Regions from separate parts of the Homo sapiens genome. Here all the other regions are linked to region 2. Evidence: fine-mapped expression QTL. A gene starts in region 2. Each other region holds a variant in brackets. All regions are shown on one strand. Distances are between the middles of the regions.

Region 1 (5,102 bases), 42 kb before region 2:
CTTCATGTTGCCTGTGCCTGAGGCCTCGGTGCCTGCAGTGGAGATCTGCTGCGACAGATCAGCGGCCGGGATCACTGTGGAGGGGAGCCCGTGGAGGGGATCACTGTGAGGACCCCAATGTCCTCAGCCGCAAGGCTCACTGCAGGACAAGCCGGCCCATCCACCCGGGGCTGGGTCGTGGAGGGACCAATGCTGTGGCCCCGCTCCAGCCCCCACTCCCGCTCCCACAGGGGCCCAGGCTGGACACGGCCACCCGCCTCTGCAGGGCTCCCCTTCGTGACTGGGGCATCCTTGAGGCAGAAGGTCCAAGATGGGGGCTCCTCAGGAGCCAGGTGGCATAGGATCTGTGCACCAAAACCTTCCCCAAAACCAGGCCTAGCCAAGGAGCCAGTCCTGGCTCGCTGACAATGTCGTTCCCTGGATCACCGCGACCTTGATCAGCCCCAGCGGCTCCCTGGATCCTTTCAGGAGGAATGTAGACCAGAATAGAGCCAGAAGGCTGGAGCGGCTGAGGGGTGGCGACCTCCTGGGCGCCAGCAGCTGCCAGATGCCACGGCCCTGCGCTTTCTCTGTGCCTGTCCCTCAGGACTGGTCACCGCTCCCAGACACGCTGTGAGTGCACACACTGACTATACAACCTGCTCTCCACCCTCACCTCAGGCTGCAGCCCAGTCAGCCACAGCAACACTGCCGGGGAGAACGGGGCCCTGACGCCAGCACCGAGACTCCAGACCAGGTGCCTGAAGGCCTGCTCTAAAGATGAGCAGGAGTCAGCTGGCCCCAAAACACATAGGAGGAGGGGAGCCTCAGGCAGCACGGGGGAGAGGAGATGCTTCGGTCAGAGGAGCAGGGAAGGACGAGCCACAGTTCCTGGCCAAGCCGGAGGCAAGCCGGCCCGTGAGTGCCTCAAGGGACCTCGCCTGCCAGGCACCACTAAAGAGGGGGAGCGACATGGACACCAAGGCAGCAGCCAGGCCACAGGGACGGTGCCCAGGGATCCCCCCCTGCACCACGGAGCTTGCAGAACAACAGCAGATCAGCCCTCTCACCTGCGGCAGCCTGGGAAGCCCAGGCGGCCTGAACTAGGGGGGGCCCTTGGCCCTCGGCGGCAGGAGGGGAGCACGAGAAGGCCAGGCTCAGATCTCCCACCATCTGGTGGGCAAATCACTTTCCTGCCCAGTAGAGCCCACAGGGGTGGGAACTGATGGGCTCCAGGGCACATGGCAGCACATCCCAGGGTCTCCCCAGGACTGGCCCAGGCTGCCCTCAGGAAGCACAGATGAGGCAGGTGCTGCCACCTGAGATCACTGGTGGGCCCAAGAGCAGGCAGGCAGTGAGGAGCAAGGATGTGGGCGGAGGAGGGGCAGTGGAGTTGGGGGAAGCTGGGGGCCCACAACCCCACTGGCCTGGTGCATGTCCTGCCAGCAGAGGGGCCCAGGGCAGAAGACACGGCTGAGGGGCAGGAGGAGAGGGCAGGGGAGGGAGGGTACAGAGGGCAGGCCAGGCAGGTCCTGCCAGCAGAGGGGCCCAGGGCAGAAGGCACGGCTGAGGGGCAGGAGGAGAGGGCAGGGGAGGGAGGATACAGAGGGCAGGCCAGGCAGGCGCGGCAGTAAGGGTGCCCTGTTGGGGGATGACACTGCCTGTGACATGCAAGGCGCCCCGGGACGCACTGTGAGTCCTCCGCACTGCACGGGGAGCACTCCCTAAAGCCGTTCCCTGCTCGCCTGCAGCCCGGCTGGCTAGGTCTGGGTGTCCAGGCAGAGCTGAACTGGCTGAGGATGAAAGGCCCGGGGCCAGTACAACGCCCGTTCCCCGGCAGGAGTGAGTTTTCTGTCCAACACAGGCTTCCAGGGTTACCTTTCTCAGCCAAGGACACACGGTAGTTCTCCAGGAAGATCACTTTCAACCTGTCACCCACAACTGGGTCATGATTGACGACGTCGCCGATGGAGGTGACCAACTTGATGATCAGCTTGGCCATGTGGTAACCGGGCGCTGCCTGGAAGGAGAGGGTGAAGGTTTTTAGCACAAAAATGCCTTGTTCAGGCCCTTGGAGGCGCTCCTGGTTCCTGGGGTCTGTAG[G/C]GGGGTGAGGCTAGAGCCACAGGAACCTGCCGTCGGGACGGTCAGTAGAGGAGCTAGGGAGGCTCCCCGGCCCCAAGGCCCCAGCTCTGCTGCGCACTCACGATGGTGGCCACCTCGCCACATCCAGAAACGTGTCCGCCTCAAGTCTGGTTTTCTGGTTGTTGTTAGGTTTTCAGAAATTACAAGGTAAAAGAGACCAGGATTTCTAGAGCTGCCGACTGACAGGAAACAGAGAACTGTCCCTAGGGACATACTGGGACACACTGGAGGGACACATTCGGAAAGAGCCAGGCTACGGCGGACAGACAACCCGATGTCTGTAACAGACAGACTGTGGGGAAAACCTACAGAGAACTGAGACACCACGGCCAGTCCAAGGTGAGGACTCACTGGGCCCTCACTCAGACCAACTTTTAGAAATGTCTGTTACTTTACAAAGACAACTGGGCAGGGGACCCATGAAGTACCCGAGTGAACATTTCAGGACACGGAGGACTCCTGTCCAATGCTTTAGGTGTGACGGATGGTGGTACTGTGTGGTGATGTTTCAGTCTACTCCCATTGTGGTTCTGGTGGAAAACATCATTTTATGAAAAGGAATGCTGACGTATGTAAGAGTGAAGAGCTAGAGTGTCTGCAGTTTACTGTGAAATGCTTCAGCTAGTCTGGGTGACAGGTTTATGGTTTTGCTACAATTCTTCCTGCTTTTCTCCAGGTTCAAATGTTTCCTTCTTTTTTTTTTCTTTTTTTTGCTGAGACAGGGTCTGGCTCTGCTGCCCACACTGGAGTGCAGTAGTGCAATCACAGCTCACTATAGCCTCAATCACCCAGGACAATCGATCCTCCTACTCAGCCTCCCAAGTAACTGGGACTACAGACATGAACCACCACGCCCAGCTAATTTTTGCACTTTTTTGTAGAGATGGGGTTTCACCACACTGCTCAGGCTGGTCTCGAACTCCTGGGCTCATGCGATCCACCCGCCTTGGCTCCCAAAGTGCTGGGATTACAGACGTGAGACACCGTGCCCAGCCTAAAATTTTCATAATAACATTTAAAACTTTTTCGAACTCCGTATCTCTATGGACTTTACATACTGAAATACTGACAAATAAAATGACACAATTCCAAAATTTGCTTCAAAAACAGCAGGTGACAGGAGTGGACAGAGACCAAATGGGGTGTGCCAGGAGGTGGCGGAGCCCAGAGGAGTGCCCACCCCTCTGACCAGCTTCCCACTCGCTGAAGGCAGCAAGAGGGCAGCCTTCAGGCTGCACACAGGCACCAGCACCCCCAGGCCCCGGCCTTGCCGTGGAGGGCTGGGGTGCCTCACACAGTCCAGACTCACTTAGGGCCACTGCTCCAGCAGGACCCTCCTAAGGACGCTGCACCCCACAGCAGCCTCACAGTTCTGGATAAAGACCAAGCTACTAGGGAAACATGGCAGGAGGTGGGGACACTGGCCGCAGAGGGCTGATGAGTGTGACGATGTGACCTGGGACTCGATGACAGCACATCTAGGACTCTGAAAGTATGTGTCATAGTAAATAAAGTGAACTGAAACCAGGCAATGCTCAGGGCATGTGCAGGTGATGAAGCAGCCACAACGCCCTGTGCCCACTGGGCACAAAGAGAAAGGACACTGCCCTCTCTGAGGTGGGCACCAGCAAGCCCACTGGGGACTGGCCCTCTAGGCTGGGGACCCCTCCAGTGAGCTGGGCAGGCAGGAGGCTTCCATCCCATTCTGACTCTCTACAGGGTCCCCACCCCCACAGGCATACCAGAGGGGCCGGTGACCGCTGGGCATCCGGTTCCCGAGTATGGATGTGGTGGCACCATGAGAAGCGTGCAGGCTGCCCACCCACTATCCCCAGACCAAACACCACAGAGAGGACTGCAGAGGAAGTCACTCACCTTGCCCCCAATCATAACAGTCCTGGGCACAAAAGCCTTGGCCGGGTCTCTCTTGATTCCTGCAGGACACACGGAAGAGACTCACACAAGGCACCGCGAGCCGGACGAGCCCCTGCTGGGGCCCAGCAGCATCAGAGGCCGACCCTGAGGCAGGACAGGCACGCTCCGCCATGTACTTCAAGCCCCAGAGACACGGGTGACAGTGGCACAGGGCCACTGGCCACCCACCTGCCCACCCACCAGGAACCTGCCACTTACAAGGGAGTGAGGCCACCCTGAGGTCTGCACTTAGGTTCCCCGCTGGTGAGGAAGGCCAGCCAGGACCATGGACGAACCCAGCAGCTGACTCGAGCAAAGATGCTATTCCCCGGGGCTCAGAGGAAAAGCTGCACCTCAGTTTCCAGAAAAGCCCAACACAGGAGCCTCCTTGGGTCTGGTCACCAGTGTTCAAGGCCCCTGTACATGAAGGGCACACTTGTGGGTTTTGTTTGGTTTTGTTTCTTGAGACAGCAGCTCACTCTGTCGCCCAGGCTGGAGTGCGGTGGTGTAAGCGTAGCTCACTGCAGCCTCTACCTTCCAGGTTCAAGCAATCCTCCCACCTCAGCCTCCTGAGTAGCTGGGATCCTAGGCACGTGCCACTGCGCCCAGCTAATTTTTTAATTTTTTGTAGAGATGAGGGTTTCTCTACATTGCCCAGGCTGGTTTCAAACTCCCACGCTCAAGCAACCCTTCCGCCTCAGCCTCCCAAAGTGCAGGGATTATAGGCGTGAGCTACCGCGCCTCGCACTCTACCACTCTTGGGTTTTTTTTGTTGTTGTTTGTTTTTGTTTTTAAGAGTTAAGGTTTAGCTCTGCCACCCAGGCTGGAGTACTGTGGTGTAATCCGGGTTCACAGCAGCCACAGACTCCTGGACTCAAGTGATCTTCCCCTCCTTAGCCTCCCAAGTAGATGCGACTACAGGCACCGACAGGTTACCACATGCAGCTAATTTTTTCACTTTTAGTACAGATGGGGTTTCACTTTTTTGCCCAGACCAGTCTCAAACTCCTGGCATCAAACAGTCATCAGGCCTCAGCCTCCCAAATCACTGGGATTACAGGGGTGAG
Region 2 (5,102 bases):
GATAGAAGTGGGTTACAGGATTACAGTTAATTTTTTTCCTTCTGGCTTATCTATATTTTCTAATTTTTCCTCCAGTAATAATTTTTCCTTCAGGACTTGCATAATTTAAAAAAAGACAAAAATAACAATAAAAGCGTTCTATTTAGGAGCTCTAGAGTGTCACATTACCACAGTCTGCAGTGTGCCGGTGAATGTCTGAGGTCATTTCTGGCTGAGGGGGAGGCACAGCAGTTATTTTCTTGGGAGCACACCTCCTCTCATTGGCTCTGGTGGGACTGGTTGCTGGTCCATCACCAGCAAGCATGTAACTTTTCCAAAGAAAGGATTGCAAGCTTATTTTCATCATGAATTAGCGAAAGAAGCAGTTAAATCCCAATTTTCCATGTCCTTCCTATTCAGAATAGGCACACAGCTTATTTACACACTGTGAGATCTAAAAGTTTACAACTTTACGACTTACAGACTGTGCGGTTTAAGAGAAAGGTTTCCACCCAGAGCCACCACACGTAGACAATCAAAAGAGATCTCACGGAGGATCAAAAAACCTGTTTTGTTGCAGGGACTATCTTGTTCATGAAGGTCATTTCCGTAATCCCTGAGCCCATCGCTGGCCTCTCCAGGATGTGATTATACATAAATACTCCAATGGGCACCCTAAGGTGTAGAGCTGAGTCCTGGTCCAGCTCCAAGGAAATGCCCTTGAATGTGAAGGCAGAGCTATGTCCTTGCCATCCGCCACTTAGACAATAAAAATGATGTTGCGGGTCGGGTGCGTTGGCTCACGCCTGTAACTCCTGCACTTTGGGAGGCCGAGGCGGGCGGATCACGAGGTCAGGAGTTTGAGACCAGCCTGGCCAACATGGTGAAACCCCGTCTCTACTAAAGATACAAAAAATTAGCCGGGCGTGGTGGTAGGCGCCTGTAATCCCAGCTACTTGGGAGGCTAAGGCAGGAGAATTGCTTGAACCCGGGAGGCGGAGGTTGCACTGAGCCGAGATCGCGCCACTGCACTCTAGCTTCACGCTACAGGGCAAGACTCAGAATTAAAAAAAAAAAAAAAATGGTGCTGTGCATCAGAACTCTCCCAACAGCAGGGAATTCTGGGGGAGCCACTGCTTCTTGGCTGCTTTTCCTGGCAAAGTCATCCCAAGCCCTTGTTATAACCTGTTTTGGCCATTCGTTGCCACTTCTATGTTTTGCATACCAAATATGAAGAGCCCCAGTTGGTATTCTAACAAATCTGTCCCTTTTACCATCTCCATTTTAGAAAAAAGAATGTCCCAGAATAAGTTTGGAAAAGCAGTCAATCTCTTAGCAATTACCGTATTAAACATATCTTAATGCCCTACAAAAATATTCTAAAATACCATCCATAAAGCAAGTGCTCACTGCCTAGATGTACACTGCAAGTAAAATCTTTGCCAAGTGGCTTCAGGTCTGGAAGTGTGTCTTTTCCTCACCAGTTCTCCCTCTACGTTAGTGTAGTAGAAAGACAATTCTCCATGGTCAAGAGTTTAAAAGCAAACGACAACAACAAAAAACTGGCAACAGGGGGCTGTGCAAGACTACCATGTACCTATCAAACTGAAAACTACCATCCTATCCATTGACCTGCAAAGCTGTTTATCAGTGAAAAAGTTACAAATGTTTACGAATGAAACAGAAAATCTAAAAAACTGTATGTGCATTATACTTTTTAAAAATGTGTATGTATATTTAGGAATACCAAAAACACAGCAAGAACACAGGCCCATAGTAAACATGGTTAAGAGTAACGGGGACAATCAGTGACTTTGTTTCACTACTCAAACAAATTTTTGCAAGATATAAAAAGTAACAATTAGTAAGATGATCTCTGTCAACTTCAACCCAAGCAAATTTCTCCAAGGGAGGTGTGGGAACCTCTAAGACAGAGCCTTCTTCGAGGGCTCCATCTCCATCTCTGAGCTTCGTACCCCTCCCTGCGTGAAGCAGGCATCTTCAGTGATTTTCTTCTAAGCAGCGTACACAAAAAAAAGTCTCACAATTCCCTGCAGATTACCGAGCTCACCCCATTCCAACCCACAAGGCTGCCCAGGCCTGGTTCCAGTCCCATTTTCTCCCACAGGCTGCTGCAGGAAAACAAAGAGTGGCTGGAGGCAGGGGCGGGGAGCACCGGCTCTGCAGCCAGCGCGGAAGCGCACGGCCAGAAAGAGACCGGGAACGTCCGCCAGGCTCCCGGGCTCAGCATCATCTGCGGGGGACGGCGGACCCCGCCAGGCGCGGGCTCCCAGTGGGGCGGACCCGTGGCCGCGGCCCTGCGCAGGGGACGCCCGGGCCCCGCCGACTGCGGCTTCCAGGCGACTCCCCAGTCGGCTGTGCCTGGCCGCCGGCCGGCTAGGGGCGCAGGTAACGCCCGACGGGCCGCCCCGCAGAGACCCCCGCTGGCGCGGCTCCGGGACCGGCGCCCTCTCAGCGGGCACGGGCGCACAGGGCGGGGCAGCGCCTCACCTTGGGGTCGCGCTCGTAGTAGTGCTGCTGCGTGCGGATCCAGCGGCCCACGAGGTGGTCGCGCACCGTGTGCGCCAGCGCGAAGAAGTAGTCGCGGGGCGTGGCCACATTGCGGTCCTTGACCAGCGTGAAGTGCAAGTGCCGGTTGAAGCTCTTCCGCACCTCGGCCACGTCGCCTAGCCCCGCCAGGCCGCGCACGCTGATCTGCTTCCGCTTCTCGCTGTCCGTCAGCGGCTTCGCCATCGCGCCGGCGGAGGCGGAGGAAAAGAGATGGAGGAGGAAAGCGGCGGCACACGCGAACGCCGGGATGGTGCAGCTGCTCTGGCGCCGCTGCTCTGGCGCCCGGCACTGCGGCTCTGCGGGCGGGATGGACCGCGCCTGCGCGCCGCGCCGGGGCGGGGCCTCGGGGGGCGGGGCGGGGCCTCGGGAGGGCGGGGCGGGCGTCCAGGCTCATAGCTGAGATCTCTGGTGTAGTCCGAGGCGGCAGCGACCTGTCCACGCCACCTGAGCGTGGTGTTTGCCCCCTCGTTGGGCAAGCCCGGCAGAAAGTGGGAGCGACTGGAGGGGGCAAGGGACCCGGGGCCTCGGAGCGTGCCGTCGTGGCCGCTCCTGCCAGCCCGGGGACGGTGCGGGAAGGGGGCCCTGCCCTCCGGCCCTCGGGTTCCTGGGACCGGCCCTCCCGCCCTGCACCGGGTCACCAGGTGCCCCGCGGGAGCGCGCTGGGCTCGGGCTGTGGCCGAGACCTGGTACACGTTCGGGGAAACTGATTACAGCTTGAAAGGCATCCACCAACGCCTGCTGGGCCCGGTCTTCTCTGTCCGGGGCAGGGCGGCTCTGAAAATACCAGCTATTTGCTTGCCACTCCAGGCCGATGACAGACGTGGAGAAAACCAGCTGCCAGCGAGCTGGAGACGCCCGTTCCCGAGGGCGCGAGGCAGCCACAGCCAAATGCCACCACGACCCCGCCTCGGAGGGACCGCAGCCCCCTAGCCCTCGGAGAAACCCTGTTCCCGAAACCACCTGGCAGACGCTGTCCGCTTTGAGATTACAGCAGGGAGAAGGAAACATGCCCGTCTGGCCGGGGAGCTCAGCCACTAACCGAGACTTAGCCTCTGTCATCCCAATCCAGGCTGCAGCTCCAGATAGGGGGCGTCTGCACACAGCTTCCCACACTTGGCCCCGCGGAACACAGTCCTGCTGGCCTCAGCCTGTGGGAACCCTGCTTCATGTAAAGGTCACCTAAACTCTGCCTTCCCTCAACCCCTTCAAACTCTGCCTTTCCCTTCGTTCTTGGGAGGCGCTCCCTCATTGCAGTGGGTCAGTACACCCGATTTTGTGGACCACAGGTTTGCTCCTGGTGGTCTTGGGCTGAAGGGGCTGCAAAGGTTACTGAATTTCGTGGAGGTAAAAATTGCCCGCAGGAAATGTCATGAAAGTCCAGGTGCAGTAGGTTTCCTGGTGTGATGCTTCAAAGTTATCTTCTTACCTGGAGCCCCTTCCAGCTGCAGACTTCAGAGGTCGGAGGTTAATCAATCTGGAATGACCCCACAGCCCACCCAGCTCCAGCTCGGGATTCACTCCTGCACTATGTCCTAGGGATTCTGGAGCCAACAAGATCGAACTTCGGGCACAGATGGCAGGGCTGTGGGGTCGAGCTTGGCTGCAAGCTCCGAACACTGATGCAATCTCTCTGAGGGTGATCTGGCAATTCAGAAGTCATAAAAATGATAGTGCCCTATGACCACTTCTACCACTCTGGGGAATTGAGTTCAAGGAAAGCTTAAGAAGACAAAAAGCAAGTTATGCAAATATGTTATCTGCTGTGGTGTGGTAAAGTTTAATCCCCCAGCTGTGGTGCACACCTGGCAAAGAATGGAGGCGCTGACACTTATTGATCATTACTTGCAGTGTACACGTATTAACTCCTGATCCCTGCAAATAGCCTGCTATTACCCCCGCTTGACAATGGAGAAGGTGAGCCACAGAGAAGTTAACTCTTCCCTAAGCCCACACAGCTAATAAGGGAAACAGCCAAGGTTCACCCCAGCCAAGCCCTGCTCCACTGCACAAGCCCAGAAAAATGTATCTGTGCTCAAAGTTAATATCATAAACCATTGTGCTGCTAAAAGGAATGACTGTTTTAATAGCTAGCTAGGAAGGTGTGATTGATGACACAATACTGATAAATGAAACACAAAAATAAGGATGTAATGCAGAAATGACAGTAATGATTTGAATATTACTTTCATTTAGTCAATTTAAATTTAAATTAAATAACCACATGTGGCTAGGGACTACTGTGTTAGAAACACAGGTGTATATCCAAACCTAAACACTGGTTATTTCTGAATGGAAGAATTATCAGGGGGGTTATCTTATTTTCTCCATACATTTTGTATTTCCTGTTTTTTCCACAATATTTCTTTTGTAAGTGGAGTAAGTTTTAGTAAGAAAAACTAGAGGCCACAGACTTCACTAATGGATGCTGATTTAAGGCCTATATATTCTCTTACTGGATTGACTTTTAATTCTTTGTTACTCTGGTTAAATAAATTTTAAGTCCTTTCTTTCATAGCTACACTTTATTAAATTTTCCATGATCCTGACAAAAA
Region 3 (5,102 bases), 200 kb before region 2:
GAAAAAACAAAACAAAACAAAAAAAAAAACGGGTCATAGACCAAAGTATAAAGCTTAAAATTATAACACTTCTAGAAGTAAAAAGGAAAAAAAATTGTGATCTTGGGATGGGAAAAGATTTCTCGGATGCAACACCCAAAGCATAAAAGAACAAACGAATAAACTGGATTTCATCAAAATTTAAAATGTCAGCTGTTTAAAACATACCATTAAAAGACAATCAACTCTTCATGTGACTTTTCAGTCAATCTGAATCTCAGGGAAAACTGTACAAAGTTCCTTCTCTAGCCCCAATTTCACTGTCCCCTTCCAAAGTGGTGATACTGGTGATCACCCCATAGCCACAAGCCACACCAGCCACCATGGTGGAAATGTGCAAAATCCATGTGTGTCCTTCCTTCCCAAATAGCCAGATGATAAATTAGTATGTCATTAAACATTATATATACTGAAAATTTCTACAGACCATCATCTTCACTTGCATGTGATTTGAAAATGTGTATCTCAGAAATTCAGCTCTCTAGCTTGTACAATACACATGACCAGAAAACAAGACACACAGGATCTACCTTCTTCCTGTCCAGCCAAGTGACTGCTTATTTAAGAGATTCAAATGTAACCATGTTTACTTTCATTTAAAAAACACACTGTAACAACTGTAGGAATGCTGTGATTACAGATACAGCTTATTAGAAAAAGGAGTAGGGGCCGGGTGCAGTGGCTCACGCCTGTGATCTCAACACTTTGAGAAGCTAAGGTGGGAGGACTGCTTGAGGCCAGGAGTTTGAGACCAGCTTGGGCAACATAGTGAGACAGTCTCTACAAAACAAAACCAAAACCAAAAAAGAGTAGGAAGAATAGTGTACAACATTAAAAAAAGAAAGTCCTTAATAGTTAGCAAATTATACTTCTTAGCCAAGTATTCTTAGTTATCTTAAACAATGTCTATAGCTTCTAAAATCAAAGAGGGAGGTGAAGGGAGTGGTGGAGAGAGTGAGTACAGAGGAGTCCATGAGTTGAGTGAAGCCTGGAAGTGCCTCGGCGCATGGTCATGACAGGATGTGCTCCAGGACTCCTTGTCTGATCAGCTGCTCACATTTCCATCGAGGTAAAAAGTGCTGAGGGGACAAGAAGGGATGGAGAAAGAGTAAAATAAATGATTGGGAAAGAATTTGAAATTATTTCTTGTATCATTAAAAAGTAGCACTGATTAGTTTTCAAACTCCAACAAGTAAGTAGTTGAAAGTTAAACTTAAGGGGCTGGGTACGGTGGCTCATGCCTGAAATCCCAGCACTTTAGGACACCAAGGTAGGCGGATCACCTGAGGTCGGGGGTTCAAGACCAGCCTAACCAACATGGAGAAACCGCGTCTCTACTAAAAAATACAAAGTTGGCCCAGGGGCAGTGGATCACGCCTATAATCCCAGCACTTTGGGAGGCCGAGGCGGGTGGATCACGAGGTCAGGAGATCAAGACCATCCTGGCTAACACGGTGAAACCCCGTCTCTACTAAAAATGCAAAAAAATTAGCCAGGCATGGTGGCGGGCACCTGTAGTCCCAGCTACTCAGGAGGCTGAGGCAGGAGAATGGCGTGAACCCGGGAGGCAGAGCTTGCAGTGAGCCGAGACCGTGCCACTGCACTCCAGCTTGGGCAACAGAGTGAGACTCTGTCACAAAAAAAAAAAAAAAATTAGCCAGGCGTGGTGGCGCATGCCTGTAATCCCAGCTACACAGGAGGCTGAGGCAGGAGAATCACTTGAACCTGGGGGTGAGCCGAGATTGTGCCATTGCACTCCAGCCTGGGCAACAAGAGCAAAACTCCATCTCAAAAAAAAAAAGTTAAACTATATTTGCTGTTTTAATCCATTGAAATTGATTCCATTTAGAGCTGTATGGAATTCTGACTTTTACAAATGAATTCAGTTTGCTTAAGTTCAATTCAACTAAGACTTCTGAATTCTAGTAGGTATTGTACTTAGTGTTTATATTTTTAAAATTTATGCACAGAGAAATCCAGATAGGTGCGATTTGGATTATCACTGGCTCAACAGCCTATCAAGAAGACCCATGAAACGCTCATTTCTCCATAAAACCTGTTCTTGGATTTCAGAGTCTGAACATTCTTCTAATAACAAGTGACAACTTTCCTCCTGTATGTCTCAAGGTTGAAAAGTATTCATGACCCACCGCGTGGGTGCTATTCACATGGTACATGGGAAGATGCCGGTACCCAGGTATTGCTTGTCCTGTGTCTTCCTAAGAGGACATCGCTCTTGCTCTGAGGGAACCAGGGGCAGGTGGAAAGATGTCTCCTTCCCTCTCAAATACCAGGACTTACAGAAAACACTGACTGCCTTGGAGGAGGGAGGTTAAGGAAGCAAGGCAGGAAGGCTTTTCAATTCATAGGTGGTCAAAGAAATCTCAAAGGAAGATCTCAAGGAAGCAAAATGTAACCTCAGTAGCCATGTGCACCTGAAGGTCCTGCCTCACAAACTCAAAGGCCTGGCAAGAGACCCATGACCAAATTCTTCTAAACCAATCTTGAAGATACATGAGCCAAGAAAAATGTAAAAAAACACAACAAAAACAAAATAACTGAGTTGTTCATTTAATGTCCATACTAATGCTGGTATTAAACAGATGGAGAGTATTGATTTCTGGATAAAAAGTAACAGTGCTTGCCATAGTGACAAATATAAAAGAATGTATATTAGAAAATGTTTCCCAGCCAGGCGCAGTGGCTCACGCCTGTAATCCCAGCACTTTGGGAGGCCAAGGCAGGTGGATCACGAGGTCAGGAGTTTGAGACCAGCCTGATCAACATGGTGAAACCCCGCCTCTACTAAAAAAAATACAAAAATTAGCCAGGCATGGTGACACACGCCTGCAATCCCAGCTACTCGAGAGGCTGAGGCAGGAGAATTGCTTGAACCCAGAAGGCAGAGGTTGCAGTGAGCCAAGATCACGCCACTGCACTACAGCCTGGGTGACAGAGCGAGAGTCCATCTCGAAAAAAACCATAGATAGATAGATAGATAGATAGATAGATAGATAGATA[A/GATAGATAA]ATGTTTCCTACTAATATTTTAGAGTATGTGAATGATCTACACCACAGATTCTACAGAAAGTTTGGATGTGGTTGAACATTAGAAGCCCCTAATACCAACCATCAACTGTGGCTGATATTGTTTCTTTTTCATGCCTCCATTTTTATAATTGAGGGTAGGGTCACAGCTGAGAAACAGAGTTAAAAAATTCAACCACCAGGCCAGGTGCGGTGGCTCACACCTGTAATCCCAGCACTTTGGGAGGCTGAGGTGGGCGGATTACCTAAGGTCAGGAATTTGAAACCAGCCTGGCCAACATGGTGAAACGCCGCCTCTACTAAAAAATATACAAAAATTAGCCAGGCGTGGTGGCAGGCGCCTGTAATCCCAGCTATTTGAGAGGCTGAGGCAGGAGAAAAGCTTGAACATGGGAGGCAGAGGTTGCAGTGAGCCAAGATCATGCCACTGTACTCCAGCCTGGGGGACAAGAGCGAGACTTTGTCTCAAAAAAAAAAAAAAAAAAAGAAATTCAACCACAGGACAGCATTTGGGATGAAGGGACATTTCACATATCTTGCTTTATGAGGATGGCTTTTTTCTTGTTCTTGTGCCAGAGCTTCCTCCTGGGCCCTCCAGAAATATAGCTGCTTATCAGAGCATTAATTCATTATCTGCTTTAAATTCATTAGTGTCCTAAGAGAATACTTGGGACAGAAATTGTTGCCTTAACAACTGAAGACTTTAGGGAACCCTCAAAATCTTTTTTAAAAATATTCAACCTTTGTTTTAGAAGCTCCAAGGGTATTAGTAAAATAATTTTAGTCAACTATTAGTAAAATAGTTTTAAAGATCCAAGGGTATTAGTAAAATAAGAGATCAACTCACCCTGTTAGGAAAATAAGCTCAAGAACCACATGACCTGAAACATTCTTTTGCTCCCTGGCATGAACAAAGTGAACACCAAATCCTTAGGGTCAACAGATCCTAAATGGCTGACCCCAAGACAGCAGGCAAGGAAAGAAAGAGAACAGCTTTTATTAGGTCATTTTTCCTCCTCACGACTTCAGAAAATTGGGATAGGATAAAAAATTTAGTGGCCGGGCACAGTGGCTTAAGCCTGTAATCCCAGCACTTTGGGAGGCTGAGGTGGGTGGATTGCTTGAGCTCAGGAGTTCAAGACCAGCCTGGCCAACTGGTGAAACTCCGTCTCTACAAAAATTACAAAAATTAACTGGGTGTAGTGGCGTGTGCCTGTGGTCCAGCTACTTGGGGAGGCTGAGGTGGGGGATCACTTGAGCCCAGGAGGCAGAGGTTGCAATGAGTGGAGATCCCGCCACTGCACTCCAGCCTGGGGAACAGAGCAAGACTCCGTCTCAAAAAAAAAAAAAAATAATAATAATAATAGTAATAATATAGTTAACGTGAATTCATCTAATGTGAATATGAAGATTTCTAGGGAAATAATTAATATACTGAGATTACTTAAGGCATGGTGGTTCACACCTGTAATCCTCGCACTTTAGGATACTAAGGAAGGTGGATTGCTTGAGCCCAGGAGAGTTTGAGACTAGCATGGTCAACATAGCAAGGCCCCATCTCTATTTTCTTTAAAGATAGATAGATAGATAGACAGACAGACAGACAGACAGACAGACAGACAGATAGATAGATAGATGGATAAAGATTCCTTATAAGGACAAATTTAGCTTAAGTTACAACTTTACAATTTTAATCTTCCTCTATTAAATTGTTATGTTTATATACCAAATACTTGAAAATTCTTCTTTTGAAAACAGAAAAATCTGTATCACTATTTGCTTGCTAAAGAACTAGGATTTATAAGGCAAAGTGTAAGCTAAAAAAACTGCTTAGGAACTTTTAGAATAAATTATATGAACAAAGGAGCTAAATCCAACAGTTCAATAGCCTCCAGATAATAATCTATCACTTACCCAGAATAAGGCTGATTATGGTAATTCCCCTAGAAAACACCTAGTTTTAAATATAAGCAATATCCTACTAAATTAATGAATCTTTTATTATATGCAACATTTGCTTCCAG
Region 4 (5,102 bases), 450 kb before region 2:
CAACTCAATGAAATAAAGCGAGAAGACAAGATTAGAGCAAAAAAAGAGTTAAAAGAAATGAATAAAGCCTCAAAGAAATATGGGACTATGTGAAAAGACCAAACAAATCTACATTTGATTGGTGTGCCTGAAAGTGATGGGGAAAATGGAATCAAGTAGGAAAATACTCTTCAGGATATTATCCAGGAGAACTTTCCCCAACCTAACAAGGCAGGCCAACACTCAAATTCAGGAAATATAGACAAACCACAAAGATACTCCTCGAGAAGAACAATCCCAAGACACAAAATCTTCAGATTCACCAAGGTTGAAATGAAGGAAAAAATGTTAAGGGCAGCCAGAGAGAAAGGTCGGGTTACCCACAAAGGGAAGCCCATCAGACTAAAAACAGATCTTCCAGCAGAAACCCTACAAGCCAGAATAGAGTGTGGGCCAATATTTAACATTCTTATAGAAAAGAATTTTCTACCCAGAATTTCATATTGAGCCAAACTAAGCTTCATAAGCAAAGGAGAGCGAAGGAGAAATAAAATCCTTTACAGACAAGCAAATGCTGAGAGATTTTGTCACCACCAGGCCTGCCTTACAAGAGCTCCTGAAGGAAGCACTAAAATGGAAAGGAACAACCAGTACCAGCCACTGCAAAAACATACCATATTGTAAAGACTTTCCATGCTAGGAAGAAACTGCATCAACTAACTGACAAAATAACAGCTAGCATCATAATGACAGGATCAAATTCACACAAAACAATATTATCCTTAAATATAAATGGACTAAATGCCCCCAATTAAAAGACACAGACTGGCAAACTGAATAGTCAAGACCCATCAGTGTGCTGTATTCAGGAGACGCATCTCATGTGCAAAGACTCACATATGCTCAAAATAAAGGGATGGAGGAATATTTACCAAGCAAATGGAAAGGAAAAAAAAAGCAGGGGTTGCAATCCTAGTCTCTGACAAAACAGAGTTTAAACCAACAAAGATCAAAAGAGACAAGGCCATTACGTAATGGTAAAGGGATCAATGCATCAAGAAGAGCTAACTATCCTAAATATATATGCACCCAATACAAGGAGCACCTAGATTCATAAAGCAAGTTCTTAGAGACCTACAAAGAAACTTAGACTCCCACACAATAATACTGGGAGACTTTAACACACCACCATCAATATTAGACAGATCAACAAGACAGAAAATTAACAAGGATATCCAGGACTTGAACTCAGCCCTGGACCAAGTAGAACTAATAGACATCTACAGAACTCTCCACCCCAAATCGGCAGAATATACATTCTTCTCAGCACCACGTCGCACGTACTCTAAGATTGACCACATAATTGGAAGTAAAACACTACTCAGCAAATGCAAAAGAATGGAAATCACAACAAACTGTCTCTCAGATCACAGTGCAATCAAATTAGAACTCAGGAATAAGAAACTCCCTCAAAACTACACAACTACATGGAAACTGAACAACTGGCTCCTGAATGACTACTGGGTAAATAACGAAATTAAGGCAGGAATAAAGATGTTCTTTGAAACCAATAAGAACAAAGACACAACGTACCAGAAGCCCTGGGACACATTTAAAGCAGGGTATACAGGGAAATTTATAGCACTGAATGCCCACGAGAGAAAGCAAGAAAGATCTAAAATTGACACCCTAGCATCACAACTAAAAGAACTAGAACAGCAAGAGCAAACAAATTCAAAAGCTAGCAGAAGGCAAAAAATAACTAAGATCAGAGCAGAACGGAAGGAAATAGAAACACAAAAAAAACCTTCCAAAAAATCAATGAATCCAGGACCTGGCTTTTTGAAAAGTTCAAGAAGATAGACCGCTAGCCAGACTAATAAAGAAGAAAAGAGAGAAGAATCAAATAGATGCAATAAAAAATGATAAAGAGGATATCACTACTGATCCCACAGAAATACAAACTATCATCAGAGAATACTATAAACACCTCTATGCAAATAAACTAGAAAATCTAGAAAAAATGGATAAATTCCTGGACATATACACTCTCCCAAGACTAAACCAGGAAGAAGTCAAATCCCTGAATAAACCAATAACAACTTCTGAAATTGAGGCAGTAACTAATAGCCTACAAACCTAAAAAAGTCCAGGACCAGATGGATTCACACCCAAATTCTATGAGAGGTACAAAGAGGACCTGGTACCATTCCTTCTGAAACTATTGCAAACAATAGAAAAAGAGGGAATCCTCCCTAACTCATTTTATGAGGCCAGCATCATCCTCACACCAAAACCTGGCAGAGGCACAACAAAAAAAGAAAATTTCAGGCCAATATCCCTGATTAACATCAGTGTGAAAATCCCCAATAAAATACGGGCAAACCAAATCCAGCAGGACATTAAAAAACTTATCCACCACGATCAAGTCAGCTTCATCCCTGGCATACAAGGCTGGTTCAACATATGCAAATCAATAAACGTAATCCATCACATAAACAGAACCAATGACAAAAACCACA[C/T]GATTATCTCAATAGATGCAGAAAAGACTTTCAACAAAATTCAACAGTCCTTCATGCTAAAAACTCTCAGTAAACTAGGTATTGACTGAATGTATCTCAAAATAATAAGAACTATTTATCACAAACCCACAGCCAATATCATACTGAATGGGCAAAAGCTGGAAGCCTTCCCTTTGAAAACTGGCACAAGACAAGGATGCCCTCTCTTACCACTCCTATTAAACACAGTATTTGAATTTCTGGCCAGGGCAATCAGGCAGGAGAAAGAAATAAAGGGTATTCAGTTAGGAAAAAAGGAAGTAAAATTGTCTCTGTTTGCAGATGACATGATTGCATATTTAGAAAACCCCATCATCTCAGCCCAAAATCTCCTTAAGCTGATAAGCAACTTCAGCAAAGTCTCAAGATACAAAATCAGTGTGCAAAAATCACAAGCATTCCTTTACGCCAGTAACAGATAGCCAAATCATGAGTGAACTACCATTCTCAGTTGCTACAAAGAGAATTAAATACCTAGGAATACAACTTACAAGGGATGTAAAGGACCTCTTAAAGGAGAACTACAAACCACTGCTCAAGGAAATAAGAGAGGACAAAAGCAAACAGAAAAACATTCCATGCTTATGGATAGGAAGGATCAGTATCATGAAAATGGCCACACTGCCCAAAGTAATTTATAGATTCAATGCTATCCACATCAAGCTACCACTGATTTCTTCACAGAATTGGAAAAAAACTACTTTAAATTTCATATGGAACCAAAAAAGAGCCCGTATAGCCAAGACAATCCTAAGAAAAAAGGACAAAGGCATCACCCTATCTGACTTCAAAGTATACTACAATGCTGCGGTAACAAAAACAGCATGGTACTGATACCAAAACAGAGAGATAGACCAATGGAACAGAACAGAGGCCTCAGAAATAACACCACACATCTACAACCATCTGATCTTTGATAATCCTGACAAAAACAAGCAATGTAGAAAGAATTCCATATTTAATAAATGGTGTTGGGAAAACTGGCTATCCATATGCAGAAAGCTAAAACTGAATCCCTTCCTTACACCTTATACAAAAATTAACTCAGGTTGAATTAAAGACTTAAACGTAAGACATAAAACCATAAAAACCCTAGAAGGAAACCTAGGTAATACCATTCGGGACATAGGCATGGGCAAAGACTTCATGACTAAAACACCAAAAGCAATGGCAACAAAAGCCAAAATTGACAAATAGGATCTAATTAAACTAAAGAGCTTCTGCACAGCAAAATAAACTATCATTAGAGTGAACAGGCAACCTACAGAATGGGAGAAAATTTTTGCAATCTATCCATATGACAAAGGGCTAATATGCAGAATCTACAAAGAAGGTAAACAAATTTACAAAAAATAAAAATAAAAAAAATTGGGTGAAGGATATGAACAGAAACTTCTCAAAAGAAGACATTTATGCAGCCAACAGACACATGAAAAAATGCTCATCATCACTGGTTATTAGAGAAATGAAAATCAAAACCACAATGAGATACCATCTCATGCCATTTAGAATGGTGATCATTAAAAAGTCAGGAAACAACAGATACTGGAGAGGACGTGGAGAAATAGGAACACTTTTACACTGATGGTGGGAGTGTAAATTAGTTCAACCATTGTGGAAGACATTGTGGCAATTCCTCAAGGATCTAGAACTAGAAATACCATTTGATCCAGCAATCCCATTACTGGGTATATACCCAAAGGATTATAAATCATTCTACTATAAAGACACATGCACTTGTATGTTTACTGCAGCAATGTTCACAATAGCAAAGACTTGGAACCAAACCAAATGCCCATCAATGTTAGACTGGATAAAGAAAATGTGGCATATATATACCATGGAATACTATGCAGCAATAAAAAAGGATGAGCTCATGTCCTTTGCAGGGACATGGATGAAGCTGGAAACCATCATTCTCAGCAAACTAACACAAGGACAGAAAACCAAACACCACATGTTCTCACTCATAAGTGGGAGTTGAGCAATGAGAACACATGGACACAGGGAGAGGAACATCACACACTGGGGCCTGTCGGACCGTGGGGGTCTGGGGGAGAGATAGCATTAGGAGAAATACCTAATGTAGATGCTGGGTTTATGGCTGCAGCAAACCAGCATGGCATGTGTATACTTATGTAACAAACCTGAACGTTCTGCACATGTACCCCAGAACTTAAAGTATAATTTTAAAAAAGGTAAAATTCACAAACCTTTAGCCAGACTAAGAAAAAACAGAAGACCAAAACAAATAAAATCAGAAATGAAAAAGGAGACATTACAATTGATACCATAGAAATTTAAAGGATCATTAGAAATGATTATGAGCTACTATATGCTATTAATTTGGAAAATCTAGGAGAAACTGATACATTCCTAGATACATAAAACCTAAGATTGAACCATGAAAATATCCAAAACATGAGTAGACTAATAACAAATGAGATAGAAGCAGTATTAAAAAGTATCCCATCAAAGAAAAGCCCAGGACCTGACGGTTTCATTGCTGAATTCTACCAAACATTTTATAAAGAACTAGTATCAATCTATGCAAACTATTTA
Region 5 (5,102 bases), 370 kb before region 2:
TGAATATGAATCACAGCTCTCCCAAAACCTAGCTGAAAGTGCCTCAAGGAATTAACCACTCGGAGCCTTATATCTTCATAAAATGTGAATTATATTAGTCCTCAATAACCCTGTAATACTTGGGAAGCCCATGGTTGCAGTGTCCACTCAGCGAACTATAGCACCTTCCACCCTCGTACGCTGTCTGTCCACCACTGCACATGCCCCGTGCATGTCTCAGTTACAGCTGAACTCATCTCTCACCTAGACTGTTGCTGTGGGCTTGTCTCCAGGTTTACCACATCCAGTGTGTCCTCCACATTCTTGCCACAGCAATATTTTTAAAACAAAGACTAAATCGTATGCCTCCCTGGTCTTTACACCCTCACTTATAGTAGTGCTGTATTTTGTTCAGATATTTCTTAATGCATCTGTCAAAGGATATTTCAATTAATTTTGCAACTCAGGTGCCTACTACTAAATAGTGAGCTTCTTGGGAGGGAACAAGCTGTCTTAATTATCCTCGTTTGACACATGGCAAATGTTGAATAAATGCTGGATGGATGGATACAAATTTTTACTTCGAGACTTGGTTCTATTACTGCCTCCTTTATAATTACAAATCATTGTAAATAATTTATGAATGGGCCGGGCGCGGTGGCTCACGCCTGTAATCCCAGTACTTTGGGAGACCGAGATGGGCAGATCACGAGGTCAGCAGATGGAGACCATCCTGGCTAACACGGTGAAACCCCGTCTCTACTAAAAATACAAAAATTAGCCGGGTGTGTTGGCGGGCGCCTGTAGTCCCAGCTACTGGGGAGGCTGAGCCAGGAGAATGGCGTGAACCCGGGAGGCGGAGCTTGCAGTGAGCCGAGATCGCGCCACTGCACTCCAGCCTGGGCGACAGAGCCAGACTCCGTCTCAAAAAATAATAATAATTTATGAATGGAGGAAGAGGGAAAGGTCCAGCCATTTATGGCCTTGGGCTTGGGGAGAAGAGGTCATATACTGACTGTATGTATCAACTTTAATTTTTTCTAATCACCTAGGGAAGTTATTTTTTTTCTCCCTCTTTAGACCTGTTTTTCATGGTAATTACTCAAGAGGAACTTTTCTACAGAAGCCTGGAGTTTCTCAGTGAACAAAGCAGAAGAGATTTCTGCATTTGTGAATTTACTTCTTAGTGGGTATGGCAGTGAACATAATAAATATTTACAGGTGTGATAGAAAAAGCAGAGAGGGTAACAAATCAACATTTTAAATAGACTGGTCAGATTTGGCCTCATCGAGTAGGTGATGTTTGTGCACAGACTTGAAATAAAAATAACAGAAGCGCTGCTTGAATTGCTAGGCTGAGTGCAGGCCTCATTTTGTGAGCGTGTTTTAAAATTGTTAATAGTTTTATTTGGAATTCATCCCCTTCTGTCGTGCTGGATCCCTATTGATTTCAGTAGGGATAGCACCATGTTCAAGAGGCTGAAGATGAGACCCGGAGCCAGCAAATGAGGAACGGTTTTTGAGGGAACTTATATACAAGACGGTCCATTGGCGGCGGGCTGGACAGAACTGCAGCCACTTGTAAAAAGAATGCAGTTTATATAGCATTTTCACTTAGCACCCTCCCTGCAGCAACCTCCTCCTGGCTACCTTCATTTAATGGAAAAAAAAAAAAGGGGGGCCTCTATCCCCTCTGCAACCTGAGTTCCGCAGGATGGGATGGGCCATGGTTCAGATCCTCCTCATAAATAAGGAATGAATCTCTGGATTGGACACTCCTGGACTCCTTATCTTGGAACCCGAATACACATTCCTCATAGACCACAGGGTCATTCTAAGGGTGTGCGTAAGTTAGTGCTGTCAGGTGCACCTGCTATACGCTTCATATCCAAATGATTAGTATTCAGAATACACTTTTCTTAAAGTGTTGTAAAGTATTAGATGGTTCCAAACTAAGCCCTCAAAAAGTCTTTTAAAATCAGTTAGCTAAACTAAAGTATTGATGATACTAACTTTAGTTCTGGGTCTAGGGAGCAGACAGAAGAATAGAGTTTCCTTTTTCGTATACGTTCAGAGAGAGCCTTAAAATAGAGTTTTGAAGTGGGTGAAGTTTGAGTTCATATTGATCTACTAACGGATAGCCCTTCTGTCAGAGCAGGGCCCCTTTCTTCAGGCCAGCGAGCACCTTGTGGGCTCTTTATACCAAAATCTTTTTCAGCCCTGCCTTACCAGTCAGACACAAAGTATCATCACGCCTCCAAGTTAGAGAGCTTTTTCCTTCACCTCCAATTCAATCAATACTCCCATTTTCAGTGCAGGTGTTAGGAGAGTTTGTAATAACGCATACTAATTCAGGGTAGGTGTTAATTTCTGTTTGAACTAATAAATGAATGCTGATAAACTTTTTTCCTAAAGATGTTAATATTGTTAAAATGCTACTTATTGTCGCATACCAACCTGTAATTAGTTGCTGTATGACAAAATGAGGAAGTTAATTGAAGGGATAGAATAGGAAGAGATTTTGAAACTTGGG[C/T]GTGGCATACCATGCCTTTATAAACATCTCCCTTTTAAGGTGAGCAAATCCTGCTTTTTCAGAGCCCCAAGAATGTGCTTAATGAAGTGCCAGTTGAAGTAACAGGAAATTGGGTCTGTACTGGGAGCCAGTAGGAAATTGGGTCTGTATAGGAGCTGATTATGAGCCAGCCCGTATCTAAGCGCAAGCTCTGTGGAGTCCTAGAGGCATGTGTCCTTGCACTGCTGTAGGGTTGCTGAAACTTTGGAGCTCCTGTCAATCATAGCTTAAGAGTCCTTCAATTGATGTTGCTAGCAAAGATGGTGAGATAAACATGGAGATTGAGAAAGCTTTATTTGTTCATAGAGATGTATAAAGCAAAAATTTACAGCGTTTTGCCTTTACCTAAAATTCCTAGGGCTGGTATATTTTTCTTGGGCAGATAAGATTTTTCTTAATGATTACATTTTCTTTTCTTTTTTCTTTAATTTTTTTTTCTCATATGGCCAAGTCTTCTGATACATTTTCTGATTAGCACAAATACCTCAAAAAATATTTTCCTTTCAGCCAGGCACGGTGGCTCACACCTGTAATTCCCAGCACTTTGGAAGGCCAAGGCAGGAGGATTGCTTGAGGCTAGGAGTTAAAGACAATCCTGGGCAATATGGCAAGACCCGTCTCTACAAAAAAAATTTATTAGCTGGGTATGGTGGTGTGCAGTTGTAGTTCTAGCTATTCGGGGGACTGAAGTGAGATGAGCCCAGGAGTTTGAGGCCACAGTGAACTATAATCATTCCTCTACTGCACTCCATCCAGCCTGAGTAACAGAGCAAGATCCTGTTTGGGGAAAAAAAAAAAAAAAAAAGACCCTTTTCCTTTGTTGTGATTCTTTTACTCTGAGGGAAGAAAAACACATGCGTTCCTCTCTCAGTAGGTGAGTTGAGTTTTTGGTGTGAGTGGCATACTGTTTATTCCCTAGTCCCATTACAACAGATATATTTTAACTGTAGCTGGGTGCATTTCAAAGAGCCAGCATTGCCTGGCATGTTTGACTTTCTTCAGGTGCTCACCTGAACACAGGATTTCCAGTGCAGACAGTTCTTGAGGCGATCCCAGGATACACGTTAAGGGGTCGGGGAGACAAGAAGGGGAAGGAGTCCAATACGGGTTAGAGCAGCTTAATGACCAGGTTACTGCTGTGAGCAGCTGGAGATTTCTGGGGGACAGTACACAGAACAGGGTTCAGTTTTGCTCCCCAAGGGGCAAGGAAGCTGTGATATTTATTCGCCAGTTTCTGCCCTACATTTGTTGAGGGCTGCTCCCAGGGCAATACTTTTTAGCCCCATCCTGTGTGTATAGATACCCTTGTGTGTGGCCAAGTAAAGCCCACAAGCAGAGAGGCCCATACTTGGAGAGGGAAGCCACTGGCGAGTGAATATAGTGTGTGCCAAGGGGATTTAGGCAGCACCTGCTATAACATGGGGTTCAAGGCCCTTCACAAACTATCTGTGAACAGGTTCCCCAGTTGCATCTCTTGGCATCTTCCCTCACATGCCTCCATTTGGGCTCAACTCAGCTTCTTGCTTTTTCCACAAAATTTTAAACTCTTGGCCTTTGTTCATGCTGTTCCTCTGTCTGGAATGATTTTCTTCTCTTCCCAAACCCGCTTTTTCTGCTTGTTTACTCCTTGGTCTCAATGTGACTTCCTCTGCCAGCTACCCTGTGGAATGACTTCCATATTATTCCCACAGCTTGTTCAAACTACTGTCATGGCATTTCCCCCACCCCCGGCCCATGATTTGTAGTGGTTGTATATTATATTCCCCACCAGATAATGCCTCAACGACAAAGGCCAGTCTCTAGTGCTTAACACATAGTGCAAAGGCAAGCATGTGGGCTTTGGAAGTAAGCAGGTATGGATGCAGATCCCAGATGGGCGAGTTATTAACAGTTCTGCACTTCCCTGCCTAATTTGGAACATGGAACTGTCTTGCAGGATTGTAGAAAAGTTTAGAAATAATGTATGTAAGTATGTAGTACAATGCTTGCCACATTAGGGGTTTTAGGAAAAGTTACAAGACAGGCCAAATGGATTAGTGTTATAAAAGCCACATAAAGAGCCTTGGGAACGCAGGAAGAGGGAGTATTTAACTCAAAAGTACAGAATTGGGGCCGGGCGCAGTGGCTCATGCCTATAATCCCAGCACTTTGGCAGGCAGAGGCAGGAAGATCACTTGGGGTCAAGAGTTCGAGGCTAGCCTGGCCAACATGGTAAAACCCCGCCTCTACTAAAAATACAAAAATTAGCCAGGCATGGTGGCGGGCACCTATAGTCTCACCTACGCGGGAGGCTGAAGCAGGAGAATCACTTGAACCCAGGAGGCAGAGGTTGCAGTAAGCTGAGATTGCACCACTGCACTCCAGCCTGGGCAACAGAGCGAGACTCTGTATCCAGAAACAAAAAAGTACAGAATTGGGCCAGGCACAGTGGTTCACGCCTGTAATCCTAGTAATTTGGAGGCCGAGGCAGGCAGATCACTTGAGGTCAGGAGTTCGAGACCAGCCTGGCCAACATTGTGAAACCCTGTCTCTGCTAAAAATACAAAAATTA

Evidence for each region.
Region 1: its variant is fine-mapped to the expression of PYGB in whole blood (INTERVAL, PIP 0.92).
Region 3: its variant is fine-mapped to the expression of PYGB in B cells (Fairfax 2012, PIP 0.95).
Region 4: its variant is fine-mapped to the expression of PYGB in whole blood (TOPMed, PIP 0.94).
Region 5: its variant is fine-mapped to the expression of PYGB in whole blood (INTERVAL, PIP 0.96).

The regions. Positions count from the first base shown.
Region 1 is chr20:25,287,378-25,292,479 of GRCh38, reverse strand. PYGB (glycogen phosphorylase B) reads right to left here. Exons shown (of 20, transcript NM_002862.4): 15 at 3,997-4,055; 16 at 1,858-1,999; 17 at 1-74. Among named protein-coding and RNA genes, the nearest start is that of PYGB, 42 kb to the right of the region's middle. The variant G/C (reference allele first, on the strand shown) is at 2,083.
Region 2 is chr20:25,245,810-25,250,911 of GRCh38, reverse strand. PYGB (glycogen phosphorylase B) reads right to left here and starts at 2,827. Exons shown (of 20, transcript NM_002862.4): 1 at 2,491-2,827. The coding sequence starts at 2,733. RefSeq lists silencers at 2,184-2,563, 2,874-3,063, 3,074-3,263, 3,444-3,523, 3,542-3,795 and an enhancer at 2,714-2,793.
Region 3 is chr20:25,441,939-25,447,040 of GRCh38, reverse strand. GINS1 (GINS complex subunit 1) reads right to left here. Exons shown (of 7, transcript NM_021067.5): 7 at 1-1,118. The coding sequence ends at 1,050. Among named protein-coding and RNA genes, the nearest start is that of GINS1, 37 kb to the right of the region's middle. The variant A/GATAGATAA (reference allele first, on the strand shown) is at 3,061.
Region 4 is chr20:25,700,351-25,705,452 of GRCh38, reverse strand. The region is part of intron 1 of LOC107985400 (a long non-coding RNA gene); the gene reads right to left. Among named protein-coding and RNA genes, the nearest start is that of ZNF337, 6.0 kb to the right of the region's middle. The variant C/T (reference allele first, on the strand shown) is at 2,502.
Region 5 is chr20:25,617,376-25,622,477 of GRCh38, reverse strand. The region is part of intron 1 of NANP (N-acetylneuraminic acid phosphatase); the gene reads left to right. Among named protein-coding and RNA genes, the nearest start is that of NANP, 4.1 kb to the left of the region's middle. The variant C/T (reference allele first, on the strand shown) is at 2,513.